Linked DNA regions of Homo sapiens: region 2 is linked to region 1. The links come from fine-mapping of genetic effects on gene expression. A gene starts in region 1. The other region holds a variant in brackets. All regions are shown on one strand. Distances are between the middles of the regions. Region 1 holds the start of SIAH2 (siah E3 ubiquitin protein ligase 2). Region 2 overlaps LOC101928105 (a long non-coding RNA gene).

Region 1 (11,126 bases):
ATAGCCTCCCTTCTTTTCATAGAATGCTAGAAGCTACAGGTCCTTAGAAGTCAAGCAGATTCATCTCTCATTTGTATAGATGAGGAAATCAAGGCCCTGGGAGGTGGTCTTTCAGGCAAACAGTGGCAGCTCTTGAGATGTGGGCTCTGGTACTTTATTCAACGTTGGTTTTTTTCACATGAGCCAGCCCATGAGAGATTCTGAGAGCAGGTGGGGACAGTAAAAAGGCAGTCCCATAATTTCTAGGAGCCTCAAACTGTAGGCCAAAGGGCTAGGTAAACAGATCTGCCTTGTTTTAAGTTTGATACAGGCCTTACGGCTCTCTGTTGTTTCTCATCCTCTACAACTAACACATCTTGGTTGGTCGCTGGGCCTATGTATACATTCAAGTTTGGTTTATCCAGACTAACTGGCTGAGCTGCCCTGCCAATAGTTTGGATTATTGATCAACCAAAGGTGAGGGACACACACCCCAGCTTTATACAACTCACACACATGCACACACAAAAGCATCCCCAAGATCACATCCTAAGCTTGGTTCTTGGTCTGCAGGGGAATAATTGGCCCTTTTAAATTTCAGCTTGCAAAGTAATAGCTTTACCCCACTGCATTCTTATAGAATAGAGACTCAGAAAACCACTGACATGTACAGAAAGGCTGAGAACCCCTGATTCCCAGAACTACTCTTCAAGGTTGATTTCAGTAGCCTGTTTCACGTTAGGAAAGAACGTATGCTTTCATAGGAACCAGAGTTCTAGATCCTGAAAGTGAAACTTCATGCTCCATATAGCATAACTGTTTCCTTCCCTTTCTCTTGGGAACAACACAATTCTATTATGGTTACATTTTAAAAACAAATTATGGATTACTGACTAATATCAAATGCTCATTTGTGAACTAAAACTCACCTAAAAGCCATTTCTTTTGTTAGCCGCTGCGCGTTTAAGGGAAAGTAAAGGGGTGAGAAAATGGCTCCCCAGAAATCCTATGGGGCATCCCCCACCCCTGCAATATATCTCAAGCATCAAATAGCCACTCTATGTTAACTACCACCAAACCTTTTCCAACCACTAGGTTGTCACCTTTTTCACAACCCTAAGACAACTATGCAAATACTTTATCTAAATTTTGAGAAACTGGGCTGAGTGAATTAGTAAGCACTATATGAGGAGGGGTTAACAGCAATTTATTAAGGTTGCCTGAAACACCCTAGTCCAAACACCGATTCAAACTCTTATTTAAATATGCTATTTTAAACCTGATTTGCAGCAGGGCAGCAGACCAAATTAAAGCACTCATTTTACTGACCTGAGTCCCAAGCCTGAATTCTCTGGTGGATTATTTTTAATTTAAAAATGAGCTCTTGTCCTATAAAATAAGCAGCACCAAGGAGAAATGCAAGACAGCTTAAATGGCCCAAGAGGCAGCGCAAGTTACTTTTACAAAAAAACTGGAAAGTATTAGTGACATTATCTCCACTTCTAATTTCAGAAAATGACTTTACAGTATACTTCTAGGTTATAACGTAGACAAGTATGTCTGTGAAACTGCTCCTGAAGGTTTCCACGTAATAGCTGCAGGTAAACAAATGTTATAATATGACCACACAATGCAATACTATGCAGCCATTTAAAATACAATGAAGTCGACTAGGTTTCAGGCATAGAGAAATATGTGTGATAATATGAATTTAAGAACAGCAAGTTGCAGATGCCATTTTTGGAGAAAAACTTACATCTATGTGTGGGTATTAAAAAACCTCCCTGACATACACTGACATCTATGATTCTATATTTAGCTGCGAGGGTGTATGTATATATAGTTTAAAAAGATACACACTAAACCTAACAATGGTGGGAAAGGAGGGGAGAGATCTTGGTCTTTCATTTTACTTCTTGTCTTGGTGGCTTGCATTTTTCGCAAGGGCATTGAAAACTTTTTACATTAAATAAAAAATGAAGTGATGAGCTTTAAACAACTGTAACAACAGCTCTTGAGTGCCCTTGTTAATTTCTTGATTGACTGTTTTCACCCCACTTAGTACAACAACGCAGCCACAACTCCTCAGTCCTTCCCAGTCTTTGGAAGGCTAGGAGAGAAAAAGGCGTGGCTTGCAGGGTTTTCTTCTAGCTAGAGGAAAACAGGCTGTAGGCGCCCTTTTTTTAGCTACAATCCCGAGAGCTCCCACGTGTCAGGGGTGCGCAGACGGTAGGCGCGGGGTGCAGGACTCCAATTATCAATTCAGCCGAGCCCAGCGCTGGTAAAGGGGGCGTTTAGCTCGCCCGTTTCCTCCCTCCTCAATCCCCACACAGTCAGTTTCTCGGTCCAAGTTTTACTGGTGCGGCCCAGCCCTACCGAGAGTACCCGAATACACGTCTGCAGAGGACGCGGGCATTGGGCCGGGTGAGCTACGATGTTCTAACGATCAGCAAATGCCAATTAATCTGTTAATTGTCTATTAACAATTATTACTCGGTAAATGTCAACCCAGACCTACACCCAAAGTGGGCTTGAGGGAGGGTGGACGAAGTGTAAACATTTTTTCTTTTTTTTTTTTAAATGAGAGATGCCGCCCGCCTCTCCGGGCCTGCGAGTGGGCTGGCGGATACCGGAGTCCCTGAGGTCACCGGCGGAGGTACGTGGGCTGTCCCTGGGCTTACCTTACAGGGAAACAGGACTGCCGAGGCCACCTTCTCCATAGCCAGGTTCCTGATGCTGGGCGTCAGGGCGCCCCTGCACGTCGGGCAGCAGCTCAACTTCTGGCGGCATTGGTTACACACCAGGTGCCCGGCCTGGCACTGCAGAATAGGAGGCAGGACATAGTCAAAGCAGACCGGACACTCGAAGAGCGAGGTCAGCTCGTGGTGCTGCGGGGACACCGGGCCGGCCCCGCCGCCGCCGCCGGGGCCCGAGATCACCGCCGCCGCGGCGGGCACCGCGGACGAGCCGGGGCCCGCAGCCGAGATGGTGGCGGCGGCCGGGGGCGCAGCCGGGGACGGAGTGTGCTGGGGCTGCGGCGGCGGCTGCTTGCTGCAGGGTTTATTAGCGCTGGGGCCGGTGGAGGACGGGCGGCTCATCGCGCTCCGAACCAACCATGGAACTGCGGGCGCCTGCCTGCCGCGGGGCCGCCCGGGTCAAGGCGGTGCGCGCCCCGCGGGCAGCGAGCTCCGAGGCAACGCCACGGCGCCCAGCCCAGGTCCGGGCGGCGGAGACGCTCGGCGCCCGGCAGGCGGAGGGCTGGACCGCGCTGATGCACTCCGCAGCCCCCGGCGTTCCGAGCACGCCTCCGCGTCGGACCCCGCGCGGTGCCCTCCTCCCGGCGGCGTCCCGGGCCCCGAACCCCAGCGGTGCGCAGAGCCCTGGCCCACCCGCTTCTGGAACAGCCGCTGACGCAAGCCCCGGGGGCGCGCGCGGACGTGACGCCTGGACACGTGTGCGGCCGCCCAGGCGCGCGGGGACTGGCAGAGCCACCCTGCGCCGGGGCGCTGGCTCCGCCCGGCTCCAGCTGGCAGCGCAGGGGGCCGCCTAGCGCCGGCGCTTCCTGCTCGGGCTGCGGGCCGGGCCTGCGCCAGTGAGCATGCCTGGCTCGCTGCAGCCCCGCGGGGTTGTCTTTTCTGGGTTGAGGAGGGGGGCTACTCTCGGGGAAGCGTCGCCGAAGTCCTCTGGCCACACCCCGGGGTGCCTGGCTGACGCGTCCCTCAGCTCAAACGAGAAAGGCAACTTCAGGCGGGGCGGGAGCGTGGACGGTGGGTGGGACCGGACGCGGGCGGGCAGGGGCGGGGCGCGGGCGCCCCTGCACTAGTCGGAAAAAACCGAGAGGTTTCTCTTCTCAGGGCTGAGTCACCAGCACGCAGGAGAAGAGGGCGAAGCGGCCACCCGCGTTCTGTGTTCGGAGTCAGGACGAGAAGCATTGGGTGGGAGCAGGGCGAGGGGCTCGAGTTGGGTCTGCAGCGGGCACAGGACCTAGTTTTGTACAGTTAACGGTGGGGTTGAGTAAAGAGGGGGGCGGTGGGGAGGATGTAAGCTCCCTTTATTCCTTTCCCAGCGGACCAGGAGGAAGCTTCGTTGAATTGAGCGCCCCTGGCTCGTATAGCAGGCCGAGGAGGGAGCTCATGGGCAGCGTTGGCTAAGAGTTCGAGATCATCTAGAAATGTCAGAAACGTAGGTTGGGTCGTGAGGTCTCTGAAGACAGTGGGTGAAACTCCAGTGTAAGGCGCTGCGTCCGCTTGGTAGAGAGCCGGCCGAAGTCCGAGTCTTTGTTGCGAGGCGTAGGGCCACCCTGCGCGCCCAGCAGAAGCGCTAGAGGGCACGGTTGCCCGGGGTGAACCGCATGTCCAAATGTAACTGTGTGCTCCGAGTTAAAATTGTTTTTCTGCAGACTTTGCTTGAGCCAACGATTCCGGAATTGGGGAAAGGGTTACCTTAGGTAGAAATCGGAAATTTATAGGAGACACAGAGGTAAGGACCAACTGTTAGGACTGAGTGAAAAATGGTTCCCTCCAACTGTAAAAGTGGAAAAAAAAATACCTATCTTATAGGTGGGGCAGTGAGGAGTAAATGAGTTTAATATATTTCAAGCTTTTAAAACAACCTCGCCCATCATAAGCACTGTTTAAACATTAGCTCTTATCTTTTAAAAATATTAGTGGATGTTTAAAATGAATGAATACAATTTGTCCAAGAAATATGGCGTAAGAGCCCAGAAGAAATAAAGTTTAATCTTACAAAGGGCTTCTGTAGAAAGAATACATGCATGGAATTGATGGAATTTGGTATAAATCTTGAAAAAACTTAATAGGTGTATTCAATCGTTCAGTAAATGTTTCCTGAGCATTTATCATGTGTCAGCTACTGTTGGAGCTCTGAGAATGGTTCTCATGCAGTTTACATTCTAGTAAGAGAGCAAGGCCCAATAACCAAGCACTCGTGGGAGAAGAAGGATTTCAGATACCACGGGGTGGGCAGGCATTATAGCAGGAGCTAAAAAGCACAGAGTGAAAGCATGTATTCTGGGATTGCATTGGGACTTGGAGGGGATATAACGGGAGTGTAGGGGTGTGGCGTTAGCACAAGGGGAGCCTCAACTGGCTTAATAAGACATTTACCTCAATGATAGGGGTAAACCACTGTAGGGTTTTGTTTGTTTTTTTAAGAACACACAACAACACTAGGTTTTGTAGGTTTTTGGAAGCTCTTTAGTAACATGGCTGAACCTGAGTTTTTGGATAGGTAGGGAGCATAAAATAATAACTAATGTTAATTGAGTGCCCACTGTATGTTGGGCATGGATAGTTTTAAGTATTTATCATAACTCTCTGTGATGAATACTACTGTTATCTCCATTTTACAGTTGAGGAAACCGAGACATAGGTTACTTTGCTCAAGATCACACAGCTGAGAATGTGGGAACACGCTAGGAGCCCTTCTTAACTACTAGTCTGTATGCCTCTAAATTATGCCTGATTCCTACTTACAGTCTTGTTAAACAGTTAAGATTAGCACACTCAACAGAGTCAGAAAACAGTTGTTCAGCCTATAATAAAGCACTAAATTTTGTGGGCAAACTTTACATAAACTCTTTCCTTAGCTGGTCTAGAGAGAAAAATTAAATCATGTTCTATTTATTTCATTTTCACCTTTTTATGACACAAAATATAAGTGATAACACAAAAATCACCTACTGTTTTACTGTTATTGGAGGAAATGTAATATTTTTCATTCTTAATTTAAAATCAAAGCATTTGGAATTTATTAATGGAACACATTTTCTTTCCTTCCACTTCTAGCCTCTCTGTGTGATGACCTCCATCCCCACGGCTTCTTACTAGCTCTCATTAGGAGACTGGAGTCCTCACCCTTGCCCCATTGACACGAGCTTTAAGTGTTCCAGCTAGATAGGCCCTGGTCATTCAGAAAACAATTTGGTTTGGGAGGTGTTGAAAGAAATAACAGGAAAAGCAATTCTCTGCAGAGAGAATTTGGTTTATTTTTCTAAAAATACAGCGAACCCATCCACTCTTACCCTGGCAGATGCCTCCCCTGGTATAGAGAAATTTCTTCTTTCTTCCTCCTTCACATCATTGCACACCTGATTAAGTCAACCAGGGTAATTAAAATACAAAAGCAAAACAAAAAAACTCTGGGCAGTTGCTGAAGGTAGGCAGGGGGAGAGTGGATAGGTCTGCTATGTGAGCCACATCAATGACCAGGCTGGTCTTCCCAGTCGCCTTTCTTCTTCCTCCTTCCTTGGTGACTTTTGAAACAAAGAAAGGTGACCTTTGCATACCGGGCACTATGAGCTAGAGCCTCCTCTTCCAGCGGGCAGTCCGCTCAGAGGTCGAATTTAGCGTGTACTCAAAATGTGTGCTGAGTTGAGTTGTTGGGAGGTTTATTTACCCTTTGGAGTGTCGCTGCTGCTTCTTGGCCTGTTTAGTGAGTGACTTTGTGGTCTGGGGGAGCAGGGTCCAGCCTTTTGTTATCTCCTGATTCATGACTCATTTACCACATCTACTGTATGAGAGGTTGGTCTCATTCGCCCACCTACTGAGTCCCAGATTGCATATGTCAAGCAGGACACCTCTCCTTAACCCATCTGCTCTATGCTAAGCTTGAAAGACTAGGGGTGTACTGAGTAGCCTTTTCTTTCCTTAAAATAGCAGGGTGAGTCTTAAAAAAAACACCTCACAGGTGAGTTCCTAATTTCACTAAACTGCTGAGCACAGTGAGAAATGCTCCAGCTAGGCAGACAAGCTCTTGCCCTTTTTTCTGTAACTTACAAATTGTGTGGTTTTGCAAATCAGGCAACTTCTGCCATCAGGCAAATGTGCATTTGCAGAGCAAATTGTGGTTGGCTTTTTAGAGATGACTCAGGTATGCATTGGAGCTTGCTGCATGGAAATTCCTCATCAGGGGAAGCTTGTGGGAAATCTGGAGGTGATGTAAGGCCCCCTGGTAATTATAGTAGGAACTTTTAACTTCATCTGTTTCTGGGGTAATTTCCAAATGCTCAAACTTCTTTTGAATAATTGTAGGTCTCTTAATTCAAATCTTTTTTTTTTTTTTTGAGACAGGGTCTCACTCTGTCACCTAGGCTTAATGCAGTGGCTGGATCATGGCTGACTGCAGCCTCAACCTCCCAGGCTCAAAGGATCCTCCTGAGTAGCTGGGACTACAGGCACGTGCCATCACGCCCTGCTAGTTTTTTAGTTTTTGTAGAGAAGAGGTCTCACTGTGTTGCCGAGGCTGGCCTCAAACTCCTATACTCAAGTACTCCTAATTCAAGCATTTTTTTGAACAACCATCATGGACTTAGCACTGTGTACTAAGAGCAGTTCTATGTATTTGCATTATTTTTGTATCCACACTTAGCTAATTAGTGCTCACCCTGTACCAGGGAGTGTTCCAAGTACTTTACATATTTTAATTCTCTTAATTCTCACAATGTCTTTTATAGGGTAGATCTTTATAGATGACAAAACAGGTACAGAGAGGCCAAGAGAGTTGTAGGAAGTCATCATTAAGAAGGCTCCCAGGGATCCCTCCTCCTGGTGTCGCCCAATATGTAACACCTTTCCTGTGAATGAGGGCTGATCCTGCTTTAAGTGAACAGAATATGGTCAAAGTGATAGAATGTCACTTCTGAGATTAGGTTAAAAAAGACTATGAATTCTGTCTTACTGTCCCTCCGTTCCTCTCGCTTGCTGTCTTAGCTCGAGCTGCTATAATAAAATATCATAAACTGGGTGGTTTAAATAACAAACATTTATTTCTCACAGTTGTGGAGGACGGGGAGACCAAGGTCAAGGTGCCACAGGTGTCTAGCGATGGCTTGCTTCCTGGTTTGTAGATGGCAGCCTTCTCACTGTGTCCTTACGTAGCAGAGATAGGAAGGAAGCTCCCTCAGGACTCTTCTAAGGATACCAACCCTCTCCATGAGGGCTACACCCTTAGCACCTCCTGTAATCCTGATTACCTCCCAAAGACCCTGCCTGCTAATATCATCACATTAGGGAGTACAGTTTCAATATGTGAATTTTGAGGGGACACAAGTATTCAGTCTGTAACACTCTCTGAGCCCTCTCTGTGGATGAAGCCAGCTACCATGTTGGGAGTAGCTCTGCTAAACGGTCCACGTGGCAAGGAACTGATGTCTCTGGCCAACAGCTAGTGAGAACCCTGGGCTTGCCAACAGTGAGTGAGTTTGGAAGTGGATTCTCTCAGCCGAGCCTTGTGATGATTGCAACCCTGGCTCACAAGTGATTGTGCCTGTGACACCTTGAACTAGAGGACTCAGCTGAGTTGAACACAGAAACTGTGAGATAATGAATATGTGCTGTTTTTATTTTTATCTTTATTTTTAGAGATAGGGTCTTACTATGTTGCCCAGGCTGGAGTGCGGTGGCCATTCTCAGACACAATCATAGTGCATTACAGCCTGGAACTCCCAGGCTGAAGCAATCCTCCTGCCTCCGCCTCCCAAGTTGCTGGGACTACAGGTGTGTGCCACTGCACCTGGCTTCAGTGTTTGTTGTTTTAAGCCATGAAGTTTTGGGATCATTTGTTACTCAGCAATATATAACTAATACACCTGTCCCAGGTCACAAGGCTTATATGTAAAATGATTTTTTATTATAATGCTATTTAAATATAAGGAAACAAATATAGGAATATTATTTTTGTTATTTACAGCTATAGAAACAAAAAAATTGAACACCAACAAAACCAGAATTAATGTTCTTATTTCTTATTTTTATGTAAATCCATATTTTTCAGATGATAATTTGATGTGATAGAAGATGTGCGAAAATGAAATCATCATTTAGTTTGGAAACAACCTCAGTGTCCATCAATAAGAAAAAGAACTATGGAAAGCCATCCTATAAAACCCTCTGCAATTTAGAAAAGTTCTCCAAGACAATTTGTTACATGAAAAAAGCACACTGTGGCTGGGCACAGTGGCTCACGCCTGAAATCCCAGCACTTAGCGAGGCTGAAGCGGGCAGATCGCTTGAGGTCAGGAGTTTGAGACCAACCTGGCCAACATGGTGAAACCCTGTCTCTACTAAAATTACAAAAATCAGCTGGGCCTAGTGGTGGGCACTTGTAGTCCCAGCTACTTGGGAGGCTGAGGCAAGGAGAATCACTTGAAGCCAGGAGGCAGAAGTTGCAGTGAGCCTAGATTGTGCCACAGCACTCCAGCCTGGGCGACAGAGCGAGAGTCCGTCTCAAAAAACAAACAAACAAACAAAAAACACTGAAGCCAAAAAACCCAAAATGATTCCATTTCTGTAGAAAATACCGTGCAAGGCAAAATGACTATATGTTTACAAGGGCATAGAAAGGTCTGGAAGAAGACAGTGAACTGACGGCAGCAGCTGCCTCCAGGGAGGGGGAATGTGAATGGATATGCAGTATGGAAAACATACATACTTCCTATATTTCTGGAGTTTATTTCTTTTTTCTTCTCTTGTTCTTTTTTGTTTGTACAATGAGAATTTATTCATGTGTTTCGTGTGTTATTTTTTAAAAAGTGTGTTGTCCTTGCCTTTCTGGGGGTTATTTTAGTGAAGGATTTATTTAGCTGCAGGGTTGGTGCCAAAATGGGTGATAAAGACTAGCCAGCCAGAAAAGGTGGGCATTATACTGCTGAGAAAGGAACTAGGAGCTTCAGTCAGGTCTTTGGGTCTGAGAGGTGACTTGCTGAAATTAATATTAAATTTAAATTAATATTAAATATTAAATTTAAGAAGAGTAACCCAAAGGCAGTATGTGAGTATAACTTGGAGATCCCAGAAAGAAGGAAATAGGTTGGAGGATCTAGTGCTCCAAGAGGGGCTTCCTGGGTCGAGTAGAGATGAAGGTTATGAGCCAGGTTGTGGCCACTGGTCAGCTGGCTAAGTGCAAAGATTTATTCAGTCAATAGTGTCATATTTGGAGGCCATGGATAATATCAAGCCCAGGCTTGATTTTTGGAGAGATAGTAGCCTGGTAGGGGAATAACATTAATTATAAAACCCTTACACAATGCTCACTGGATATCAGACACTCTTTTTTTTTTCTTTTCTTTTTTTTTTTTTTTTTGAGATGGAGTTTCACTCTTGTTGCCCAGGCTGGAGTGCAATGGTGTGATCTAGGCTCACCACAACCTCCACCTCTCGAGTTCAAGCGATTCTCCTGCCTCAGCCTCCTGAGTAGCTGGGATTACAGGCATGAGCCACCATGCGCTGCTAATTTTTTATCTTTAGTAGAGACAGGGTTTCTCCATGTTGATCAGGCTGGTCTCAAACTCCTAACATCAGGTGATCCACCCACCTCGGCCTCCCAAAGTGCTGGGATTACAGGCGTGAGCCACTGTGCCCGGCCCCCAGACACTCTTTTAAGCACATGGCATTTAATCCTTATTAGAACGCTCTAAGGCATGTAGTCTATTAATCCCCTTTAAGCGATGAACAAACCTCCAAGAGGAGGTTTAATCCCTTGTCCTAGGTCACATGCTGATAAGTGACAGAAACATGATTTGGATCCAGGCTGTTTTAACTCCAGTGACTGTGCTCTTAACCATTTGGCTGTCCTGCCAGACATCATATGGAAAATCTAATACAGTGTGATACGTGTATTATGGAGATGGGAAAGGAGAGGAGGGTGAAGTTCAGCACTTCCTGGGCAAGTGTGAGGAAGACATCAAGAAAAAGCAAGAGTAGGAATGTGACAACCAAAGAAGAGGGTAAAGACTGCAGTCCAGAGAGAGGGCAGCGTATACCCGAAGGTACAGAGCTCCTGAAACTTTCCTACCTTGGGGAGTCTTCTGTCCTCTCTCCTCTAGGAACCATCCTTGGATCCCTGCTGGCCTCCTTTCTGAACCCGCTGTTGAGGCAGAGTTGCATATACAGCATTTCTCCTAGGACTGTTTGTTCTTAGATCTCTATCCCTTAGTGAGAAGTGAAGAAAGGCAGAGGGGAGAGAGTCCGGAATAATCTCCTTATTCTCCATCCCCACATCCCTAAGTCTGATCTGAGATTCCCCCAAAGAGCCTCGTCCACGCCAGCCTAACCCAACAGACAGTGTGGATCACTGAGAACCAGCAAAATTGACATAACCTTGAGGCCTCAAATAATACATTCCTTTCC
Region 2 (11,126 bases), 35 kb before region 1:
GAGCCACCATGCCCAGCATTTCCTAAATAAACTTCATATAAGCTTTGTCTCAGGCTCTGCTTGCTTTGGGGAAACAACAGTCACCACCCTATTTGCTGTTTTTTGATGATGTTCCTTGCTCTTCATCTATTCAGTTCTTTAATACTTGCCTGGGGAACATCTAGTGTGCTCCTGGTCTGGGAAAGGGCCCTAAAATATAAAACGGAATCAGTCACAGGCCTTGCTCTTGAGGAGTTCTTGGTTTAAGAGAGAGAGAGAACAGACAGCTTAAAAAAAAAAAAAGTCAGTGTATCACAAGGTGAATGCTGTTCCAGAGAACCAGGAAGGAAGAACACAGGAGACAGGACAGCTGATCTGGCTTGGGGTATCTGAGGAGGTTTTCTCAGGAGCGTCTTTTAAAGGATGAACAGGAAGTAGTTTACAGGAACAAGGTGGGAAAAGACCTTCTGGGCTGAGAGACTAGTCTGGGCAGAGACACAGAGTCGTGAAAGAACTCGGTATGTTTGTGAACTGTGGGAAGTTCAGGGAGACTGGAGCGGAGGGTGCCTTAGGAATGTGCTATAGAGGAGTCTGTCAAGACCTGGGTGCCTGCTACACTCCGAGAGGTCAGCGAACGGGCCCTCACTGGCTTCTTTTGCGTTGATGGCCTGGTCTGTATTTCTGCACTAGGTGGCCCTCTCATTGTCGCCATGACTGCTGGCCAGTGGACACCTGCAGGAATGGACTTGGGGTAGGCCTGAGGCCCCAGTCTGCTGGGGTGCTCCTGGGAAACTGAGTCTCGCCTCGCCTAGTCTCATGGTAATGTGCAAGGGTTGTTTTGCATCAGCTTCTTGCCACTGGGGCGAGCCAGCAAGCAGCCAGAGCTTCCAGCACAGCCGGAAGGGGCTGGGAGGGTGTATCCACTTCCCCACCCACTAGAAGAATGTGTCTACCTTTGCCTGGGAGCAGGCTGTGCAATCTCCTGCTCGTGTGTGTCTCTGTTTACTTTGCCATGAAACAATCCTGTGTGGGTCTGCTGGTGTCTTCCCTCCCATTGACCCCTATATCTCGTCGGGTAACCATGCATCTCCTGACTCAGGGAAAAGACAGTGACTTTTTAAATATTTATTAATTAATTAATTAATTTTTTTTTTTTTTTAGAGACAGGTTCTTGCTCTGTCACCCAGGCTGGAAGTTCAGTGGCATGATCATAGCTCACCGCAGCCTTGGACTCCTGGACACAGTGATCCTTCCACCTCCTGAGTAGCTGGGACTATAGGCACACACCACTATGCCCAGTTACTTTTGTTTTGTAGAGACAGGGTCTCGCTATATTGCCCAGGCTGGTCTTGAACTCCTGGCCTCAAGTGATCCCTGCCTCAGCCTCCCAAAATGTTGGGATGACAGGTGGGAGCCACTGCACCCTGCTGAGACCAGTGACTTTTAAAGTCGACTAGTGGCTGTCCGAATCAAGTGGTCCCCTCTTTGGCAGTAGTTGGTAAGGAGTAGAAATCAAAGGATACACAGAGAAGATGCTAGGCAGAAGTAGTGAGGATTGGAGGAGAGCAGAGAGAAGCAGGGTGCTGGCAGCAGGAGAAGCAGACTGAATGTGGCTGAGTAACACCGATGTGCCAACACCAGCGGCTAGGAGATAGTGAGGCTTCAGACCCCAGTGGGGCCTGGTGAGATTTCCATTTCTGAACTACACTCCAGAGTGCCAGAAACCTGCTGGTGTGGCTGGTCCTGTGCTCCAGGAAGTGAAAATAGACACGCACTTTCCTATTCCTGTACATATCCTAACACGGAGTAGCGTCAGCAGAGACACTGCCTGGCCATGCTACTTCCCACCATGTAAACTTGAGTAAGTAACTGAGCACTCTTTCTCAGGTTCCTCACTTGTAAACTGGGCTGTTACTGGTGTCTGCTTCATAGGGTTGTTTTGATGCTTGAATGAGTTAATGGGCATAAGATGTGGAGAAGGGCCTGCTGGTGCATATGAAGTACTCAGTAAGCAGGTAGCGGTCTGGGTCTGGGCAGGACACCCAAATTGGGTAACTGAGGAGAGGCTGAGAGACTATTTACAAAAGTATAGGTCAGATGAAGGGACAAAGGATGGTGGAACACCATGGGCTATAACTGGCTGAGAAGTCTTTAGTACTCCTAGGCCTGATGAGGCGAAGGGAGGAAGTAGTTATCAGACACCCAGCAGCCTCAAAACAGGGTGACAGGGCAGGAACTGTGGGGGTCTGGACAAGAGTGCAGCTGGGCCAACCTGGCCCTACAGGGCAGGAGTGGAAAGCATGCATACTCTTAAGACTTCTCCCTAACTCTGATCTCCTGCCCATGATACCCAAAGGCCAATCTGATTGGAGGCCAAAGGATGAGGCTGTTAGGTGGTTACAAAACGCAGTGGTCAGCCTGCCAGGCCCAGAGCAGTTGGTGAGGCATGGAGCAGGGATCTAGGAGCCACTGCAGCCTCTCTAGCACAAATGTCGCCAGTGTTGGCTGCAGTATTGTTATTACAATAGAGGCCTTTCACTTGAGGCCTTGACCGAGTTGCCATTCCTTGCAAACAAAAGAGCCTTACAGAGGCCGGGCACGGTGGCTCATGCCCGAAATCCCAGCTCTTTTGGAGGCCGAGGTGGGTGGATCACATGAGGTCAGGAGTTCGAGACCAGCCTGGCCAACATGGTGAGACCTCGTCTGTACTAAAAATACAAAAATTAGCCAGGCGTTGTCGCAGGCACCTGTAATCCCAGCTACTAGGGAAGCTGAGGCAGGAGAATCACTTGAACCCAGGAGGCGGAGGTTGCAGTGAGCTAATGCCACTGCACTCCAGCGTGGGCGACAAGAGCAAGGCTTCATCACCCCCCCGCCCCGAAAAAAAAAAGACTAACAGAGAAGAGCAACGGGAGCTCTGCAGGGAGACCTAGGGGACCACGCCATTCCCGTGGTCATCATCAGGTACTCTGTTTACCAGCTCTACTCTGTTTACCAGTCTCCCGCACTAGCTGGGAAAAGCTCTCTGGGGCAGGGCAGAAGTCTTTTCCTCTTTATAACCAGAGTGTCCAGCAGAACCAGGGACTTGTCACTGAGGGCTCTGTTGAGGTTTAAGGAACCCCTAAGAACCTGCTGCTCCAGCAGATAGGAGAGGGAAGCACTTAGGGCCTTAGGGGAGAACGCTGAGTCAGGGAACAGTGTGTGCTGCTGTTGCGTGTGTGTGCTTGTGAACATTCACATTTTATACACGTCAGAGAGAAAGTTGAAGGCATTGCCTGTTTTGGGCTGAGGAGGCCAGGCCCCAGATGAGGCTTCTCCCTGGAGCCCCTCTTTTGTCAGCTCCCATTTGTGCCAGGCCCTGGGCTTCCCTGGATCTCACAACTCATTGCAACCCTGTGGAGTTGGCAGCGTGCCTGTTTTATGGACAAGGACGCTGAGGCCAATGAATTCACAAAGGTAGCGGTAATTAGAAGTGTCTGAATTTGAGCCCAGATATGGCTTGAAAGCCTGAGTTCTTTTATTTTTTGAGGGGAAGTCTTGCTCTGTCGCCCAGGCTGGAGTACAGTGGCATGTTCTCGGCTCACTGCAACCTCCGCCTCCTGGGTTCAAGCAATTCTCCTGCCTCAGCGTCCTGGGTAGCTGGGATTACAGGTGCCTGCCACCACGCCCAGCTAATTTTTGTATTTTTAGTAGAGATGGGGTTTTGCCATGTTGGTCAGGCTGGTCTCAAACTCCTGACCTCAAGTGATCTGCCCACCTCTGCCTCCCAAAGTGTTGGGATTACAGGCGTGAGCCACCGTGCCTAGCCAGCCTGAGTTCTTAATCATTGAGCTAGTGTTTCCCAGTGGAGATACTGCAGGTCATCATTTGAATTTTTGTCACTTCTGTGTATTTCCTGTTTATCATTTACTTAACATTTTTCTCGAAATTGTCTTTTTTGGTACTTTAAACAAGTTTACTTGAAAAGGAAACTGTATCACTACCATAAATGGAGAGCTAGAATCACCTACTGTAAATAGAAGGTATCATAAATATAAACACAAAGGAATTCTTGGTCTCCAGCGTGGCCAACTCCAAATTCTAGAGCAGAATGATTTTGAAGTAACTCCATTCCTTTTAATTGCTTCGTTGCCTTGAGAGGCCTCTCTCTCCTCTATCTGTCTGGGCTCTAAGATGTGTAAAATTGGATTTGATCAGATTGTAGCCAGAGGTGTGCTGGTAAATGTTTAACAACTGGTGCTCCAGAAATTAAATTTTTTTTTAACACATGCAAGTGTCAGATAAATCTTACTGATATAAAGGAATTGTAGCACCCAATGTACAAATAATAAGAAATTATACAGTATTCTAAACTGTAAATTCCATATAGCTTATTGATTCCCTCAGAATGTTTTCATTGCTTTTTGCTGAACCGTTGTATCTGAACCTTGTATTTTGCTGAACCCTTGGCATATATTGTATGCCAACCTGTGGTTGATATTGACAAACAAGCAATTATGACATAAATGCTGGTTGGTACCAGTAAGATTAAAATGAAGAAGCCTTAACTTTCAGATGTTTGTCAAAATTTCACTGGTTCATCAGTGTCATCAATGATGTGAGTGACTTCTTTATTGATTTGGGCAGTAGTTTTTGACTGCTAGAAAAATATTTCTTCAACTTTTTTTTCTATTTGCAATGTAATGGTTCCAAGTATGACATAATTCTAAGTTAAAGCTCTATTATTAACATTTTCGTCATCATTTTCTTAAGTCTAGACAACAACTAATAAATCAAGCCCCAATTTGTTGCTTTTGCCACTTTCTAAGTACTAAATACTGCTACTGTTAAATATATACTGTTAAATATAATACTGTTAAATATAACTTATTTAATTATAAATCTAGAATTTAATTTTTAATAATAGCTGTGTTTATCAACTGGCTCTCAAGATTCCTAAACATTTGACTGTTGCAAGTTGGTATGTGCCGGCTCCTGTGTGCCACTGATTATGGCCCTTATCTTGAAACCAGGCAAGCTGCATATGTTCCCCTTGTGGAGTCACCATCCAGAATAATTTCTACTCTTTTTAGACAT[G/A]AACACGCCGCTGTGCTCTGCTCCAATAAAATAGCAAAGTTTTTCTCTCCTCGCACTTTCTCACCTCAGCTCCTACTTTCCTTCCCCGGACTCCGCTCCCTGGATATTCCTTGAACACACGAGACATGCACACCTCAGGGCCTTTGGACTTGTTATTTCCCCTGCCTAGAATGTTTTTCCTCCAATTAGCTGCATGTTTCATTCCCTCACCTCCGTCAAGCATTTGCTCAAATATCACTCTGTTTATAACTGCGATCCCTCCTCTCCCCTACTCCCCTACTGACCATCCCTTCTACCTGCTTTATTTTTCTCCATAGCATTGACTATCTTCAATGTATTATACTGTATAAAATCTTTGCATATATTTTGTTTATTGCCTTCTTCTCTCCATGACAATGTAAGCAACACAAAGGCTAGAGGTTTTTTGCTTGTTTGTTTTATTTTGTTTTGAAGACAGGGTCTCACTCTGTCACCCAGGCTGGAGTTGCAGTGGTGAAATCTCAGCTCATTGCAACCTCCACCTCCTGGGTTCAAGCAATTCTTGTGCCTCAGCCTCCTGAGTAGCTGGGACTACAGGCTTGTACCACCACGCTTGGCTAATTTTTTTTTGTAGTTTTAGTTGAGACTGGGTTTCACCATGTTGGCCAGTCTGGTCTCAAACTCCTGGCTTCAAGTGACCTGCCAGCCTTGGCCTGCCAGAATGCTGTGATTACAGGTATGAGCCACCATGCCCAGCCAAGGGCTAGAGTTTTTGTACATTTTGCTGGATCCTTTGTGTATGGAACAGTACCTGGCATAGTGTAGGGAAGCAGTATGTATATATGTGTGTTGGATAAATGAATGAATATATAATATGTAATATATAATAGAAACATTCTTACATTGCCTCTGATGAAATGCTTATGTCTCTTTTAATCTATAGATTCTCCTTCTATCTCTTTTGCTTTCTTGAAATTATTTATTGAAGAACCCAGGTTCCCCATAGCAGAGTTTCCTATAGTCTCATTGCAGCCCAAGAATATAATCTGCTCAGATTCAGATTTGATTTTCCTTTTTACAAGACTGCTTCAAACCAACCAGGGAACTATTGGGGAAAAAACCCTGATGGCTTCATAGTTGATGGTGGTGATGGGTACATCTATAACACAAAGGACAGTGTCTGTCTGTCATGTAAATTTTTATATATATATACACACACACACACATGCATGAGGCAGGGATCCAACTTCATTCTTTTGCATGTGAATATCCAGTTGTCCCATTTGTTGAAACAATTATTCTTTCTCCATTGAATTATCTTGACACTCTTGTCTAAAAAAGGGAAGATTTTAAATTAGATTTGTGTGACCAGATTTGCTTCTTTCATAACTTATTTTGGTGGAAACATTGAGAATTCTAGTCAACATCTATTCAGCTCCAGGGTAGAAAATCCATTCAAACTGGCTCAAGTTTGAATAACGGGGGCTCCTACTGCCTAGACTGTGGTCTTGAATCATTGTTTCACACTAAAGAAATCAAGGTTCCTTGAAGACATCGTTGATTACATGTTGAGTGCAGGAAAAGAACAAGATGAGCCTGGAACATCAGAGGCTATTTGTGATCATGTCAAAAGCACTCAGGAACCAAGCTGAATATGCATTTGTCAGGCCAAGATGGAATGATATGAGTATCAACAAGGATAATAATGGCAATGAATTGAAATACATAAAAAAGTTAAAATCCATGAATTCATAATGATATTCTTTTTTTTAAGAGACATAATGATTTTTAGTTTTTGAGACAGGGTCTTGCTCTGTCATCCAGGCTGGAGTGCAGTGGTGTGATCTCGGCTCACTGCAACCTCTGTCTCCCAGGTTCAAATGATTCTCCTGCCTCAGCCTCCCAAGTAGCTGGGACTACAGGCATGCACCACCACACCTGGCTAACTTTTGTATTTTTAGTGGAGACGAGGTTTCACCATTTTGGCCAGGCTGGTCTCGAACTCCTGACCTCAGATGATCTGCCTGCCTTGGCCTCCCAAAGTGCTGGGATTACAGGCATGAGCCACCATGCCTGGCCTGCCTGATATATTTTTAAAATGTTACTTCATTGGTTTTATTTTTGGAGGATGCTAGAAAACTACCTCATTGTTTTGAAAACTGATAAAGGAAAATAATCAGGCATTTATGTTATCTTTCCCTTGTAAAATGTACCTTACGGTAAACCAATAGTTGAAAAGAGGAAGTTTGTCACTATAGAAGTTTTCCAGTTCATAAAAAAGGAATGATTTGAAAGATCATTCTGTAATGCCTCACAAGTGAATATGAGCCATCAATGGCCGATAATATCACTAAAAGAGACAGACAGAGTTAGAGGAAGAGAGCAACAGCCATTGTCCTTTGTGTTATAGACATACACATCACTACCATCACCTATGAAGCAGTCTTCTTTTTTTTCCTCCCCAACAGTTCCCTGGTTGGTTTGAAGCAGTCTTATAAAAAGAAAAATCAAATCTGAATCTGATAAAATGATATTCTGGGGTTGCAATGAGACTATAGGAAACTCTGCTATAGGAACCCTGGGTTTTTCAATAAATAACTTCAAGAAAGGAGAAGAGATGGAGGGAGAATCTGTAGATTAAAAAAGACATAAGCATTTTATCAGTAGCAATGTAAGGATCTTATATATGTATCCCAGTTCAAACAGACTGTATATCAACCAGAGAAATGTGACCTCTGACTGGATATTTGATTATATTAAAATTTATAATTTTTATAGATATAAAAACAGTATTGTGAGTATGTTTCAAAGTCCTAATCTTTAGATATTCTATACTGAAACATATACAGATGAAATGATATGATGCCTGGGATTTGATTCAAAGAAATCCACACGTGGATGTAGGTGAGGGTATAGATGCAGGACAGCTGGCCAAGAGTTGATAATGGTTGAAGTTGGTGATAACACATCGAATTCGTTATATTATTCTCCTTCCTTTTGAAAATTTACTAATAAAATGTTTTTTTAAAAGTTATACATCTTGGCTGGGTGCAGTGGTTCACGCCTGTAATCTCAGCAGTTTGGGAGGCTGAGGCGGGTGGATTGCTTGAGGTCAGGAGTTCAAGATCACCCTGGCCAACATGGTGAAACCCTGTATTTACTAAAAATACAAAAATTAGCCGGGCATGGTGGCAGGTGCCTGTAATTCCAGCTACTCGGAGGCTGAGGCAGGAGAATCGCTTGAACCCGGGAGGCGGAGGTTGCAGTGAGCTAAGATGGCACCACTGCACCCCAGCCTGGGCAACAGAGAGAGACTCCATCTCAAAAAAAAAAAAAAAGTTATACATCTTGACAGCAATAATCATAAAATTAAGCAAAATTAGAAGGAGGGAGAAACTTTGTGTGTTACTTTCTTCAATTTTGGTGGTGGGAGTGAATAAATATGGTCTAAAATTGAAAAAAAAAGTGATAAGAAGAATTAATTGTGAAGGCACAGCAGGCTGTCTCCAAGATGCCTCAAAGCAGGAAATGGAGTGTTTCTGGGCTCCCTGGGGAGGGATTAGGACCTGGCAGGGTGGGCGGCAGTGGCTGCTCCCTCCACCCCTAGGGGCCTCTTGCTATCAAGGCTTTTCCTTTGCTAGTGTGCTGACTTTCCAGGGCTGTGTGACTCTGGTGCACACCACTGACTGTCTTTGACTCTCTCAAGAGAATCTGACTGGTGGCTGCTCAGCCAATGAACCGCTGGCCTGGGTAAGGTCTTATCAGCTGTGGCCTGCATTACAAGTTTGTGGGTGTGTGAATTAGTGGGGGGTTTGCATGGGGTGTTCCAGGAACTATGGGCAGGGCAAATTCTCTAGAAGAAGTAGTTTTTATTGTGGACAGGGTTCGTCCTGAAATTTAGCTAGTATGAGGATGGGTTAAAGGATAGATTAGAATTAGGGACCAGACAAGACACTGCTGAACTTTGATATTCACTCGGCACGTTCTACGTGTCTGACCTTGTGTGGGTGTCAGGAACGCGGGAACAAAGGAAGTGTGAGAGAAGAATAGCCCTGAGAAGTGGATGGGAGGTGGACAAGGCTGGACTTAGGCATTGAGTGGTTTGGTCTTGATCCAGGAGAGGCTGATCTCTTGGCACATCCTCCTAACTACCTCAGCCTTGCAAAAACCTACCCAACACCCAAGGCCCAATGCACGCGCTGCTTTCTCCCGGAAGCCTTTTCCAATCCTCTTTTGAACTCCATAGCAATTTGTACGTCCTTGTCTTAACTTGCTTTGCAAACATAGTTGATGTAGTTGTGGTTGCATATTTCATGCTACTGTAAGTTGCCTCTTTGTTTGATGCTTTCAGACTTCTGCTAGACTGTAAAGTCCATATCTGAGTCACTTTTGCAGGCAGCAGGGCTGTTGGAAGGGCTACATTCCTGAGTGTAAATCCCATTTTCACTGCTTACAAGCTGTGTGACTTTGGGCAAGTTACTTAGCCTCTCTGAGCCCCCACCTTCTTGTTTGTTAATGGGAGTGATAATACCCACCTCAAGGTGTTTTGTTTTGAAAATTAAACCATATCAAGGATATAAAGTACAGGACCAAGCACAGGGCAGTTGATTGGTGTGTATTGAATTGAGGAGGAATAACTCGGATCTTGAGGGATGAGCAGCATTAGCATAGTGGGCGAGATAAGGGAAAGGGAAGGGCATGCTCCAAGCTGTTCTCTTCAGTCCCTCCAGGGGAGGGGGCAGCGTGCGGGGCCACACTCTGGACAGGGCAGCTACTCCTCACATTGTCAGCAGAAGCCACTGCAGTTCTAGGACTCAGGCAGCCACACTCTTGTCCAGTGTAATGGAAACTGCCTTCTGAGCTGCATGCACCCTTACTTGATATCAATGTACCAGGGACTCGGATCTGTAACTAGAACAGCACTTACAGCTTGTCTCTCAGGGAAATGGTGTTGGATGGTCCTCAGGAATATTTCTTCCAGGTTTTCATGGAACCTAGAAAAACACCACAGCTTGCTAAGGTGTAAACCTCTCAGATGCCTGGGATGTTCTAGACTGAGCTGCAGCCAGTGCCTTTCTCCTGTTCAGGGCTGGATATGCACAGACGCCCTCACCAGGGCCTTCTAAACATAATTTGCTTCAACCCTTGCTTGTTGGCACAATTTTTTTCCCACCTCTCTCTATTTCAATAATGGCTGCTTCCTGACCATCTCTACTGCATAAGTAAGTAATCTGCCCTGGAAACTTGTCTTTCTGATTACTTTGCCCCCGCTGTGATTGCCTCCTTCTCCACATCATCCATTTCGCTCTCTCTTTTGGATCCTTCCCATTGGCACAGTGCCATGCTCTAGTGGCTCCAATTTTTAAAACACAAAAAAATCTTTCATTGATCCCACTATTCTCCTGCAGCAACTGCTTCATTTCTCTACGTCTTCTCTGCGGAACTTCTTAAAAGCCTTGTCTATAGCAACTTGTCTATAGCTCTATAGCTATAGCTCCTGCCTCCTCTCCTCACCCATGCCCTGTTCTCTCCCTCACCTGCTCTCCTCTGGGCTTCTGTCTTCTCCACTCCATGAGACTGCTCTTGACATCTTGCCATGACCTCGATTGTCTTCTCAGTGGCTAACTCCTCTGTTCTACTTGAGCCAGATTTTTTTCCTGGGGTTCTGTGATGCCGTACTGTCTAGGAGTTCCCCTCATCTTGATGGCCACTTCTTCTATCCACCCTCATTTCCAGGCTCTGGCTCCTCATGTGACCTCTAAAAGGTTGGCAGTCCCAGGAGATAGGCCTGAGTCCCACCCTCTTTTCTGCCTGTATGCACCTCCCTCCATTGCCCAAACCCCGGGGTCTTCTCACTTCCACCCCACAGCTTAAACACCATACATATAGTGATGGTGCACACATTTTGGTATTTCCATCCTGGCCTTTCCTCAGAGCTCCAAGCTCATACAAACAACTGTCTGGTTGATGTCTTCAGCCATGTGTCTCTCTAGATTTCTGCCCTATGCTGGCTCCTTCACTAGTCTCTGCCCCAATACATGGAACTTCTTACCCATTTACTCAGGATGAGAGCCTAGGAGTGATCATCCTTG

Evidence for each region. PIP is the estimated chance that this variant, and not a neighbour inherited with it, causes the effect.
Region 2: its variant is fine-mapped to the expression of SIAH2 in whole blood (TOPMed, PIP above 0.99).

What each region holds. Positions count from the first base shown.
Region 1 is chr3:150,759,773-150,770,898 of GRCh38, forward strand. SIAH2 (siah E3 ubiquitin protein ligase 2) reads right to left here and starts at 3,397. Exons shown (of 2, transcript NM_005067.7): 1 at 2,661-3,397. The coding sequence starts at 3,077. It overlaps SIAH2-AS1 (SIAH2 and CLRN1 antisense RNA 1), which reads left to right and starts at 2,165. Exons shown (of 3, transcript NR_187306.1): 1 at 2,165-2,208; 2 at 2,567-2,635; 3 at 8,773-8,903. It overlaps LOC124909447 (a long non-coding RNA gene), which reads right to left and starts at 10,859. Exons shown (of 2, transcript XR_007096132.1): 1 at 10,792-10,859; 2 at 7,744-7,868. RefSeq lists enhancers at 952-1,051, 2,868-3,814, 4,333-4,392 and a silencer at 2,923-3,822.
Region 2 is chr3:150,724,837-150,735,962 of GRCh38, forward strand. It overlaps LOC101928105 (a long non-coding RNA gene), which reads right to left. Exons shown (of 3, transcript NR_121657.1): 3 at 9,635-10,028. Among named protein-coding and RNA genes, the nearest start is that of ERICH6, 26 kb to the left of the region's middle. RefSeq lists enhancers at 318-819, 820-1,319, 2,564-3,063 and cis regulatory regions at 4,829-5,221, 8,470-9,161. The variant G/A (reference allele first, on the strand shown) is at 5,056.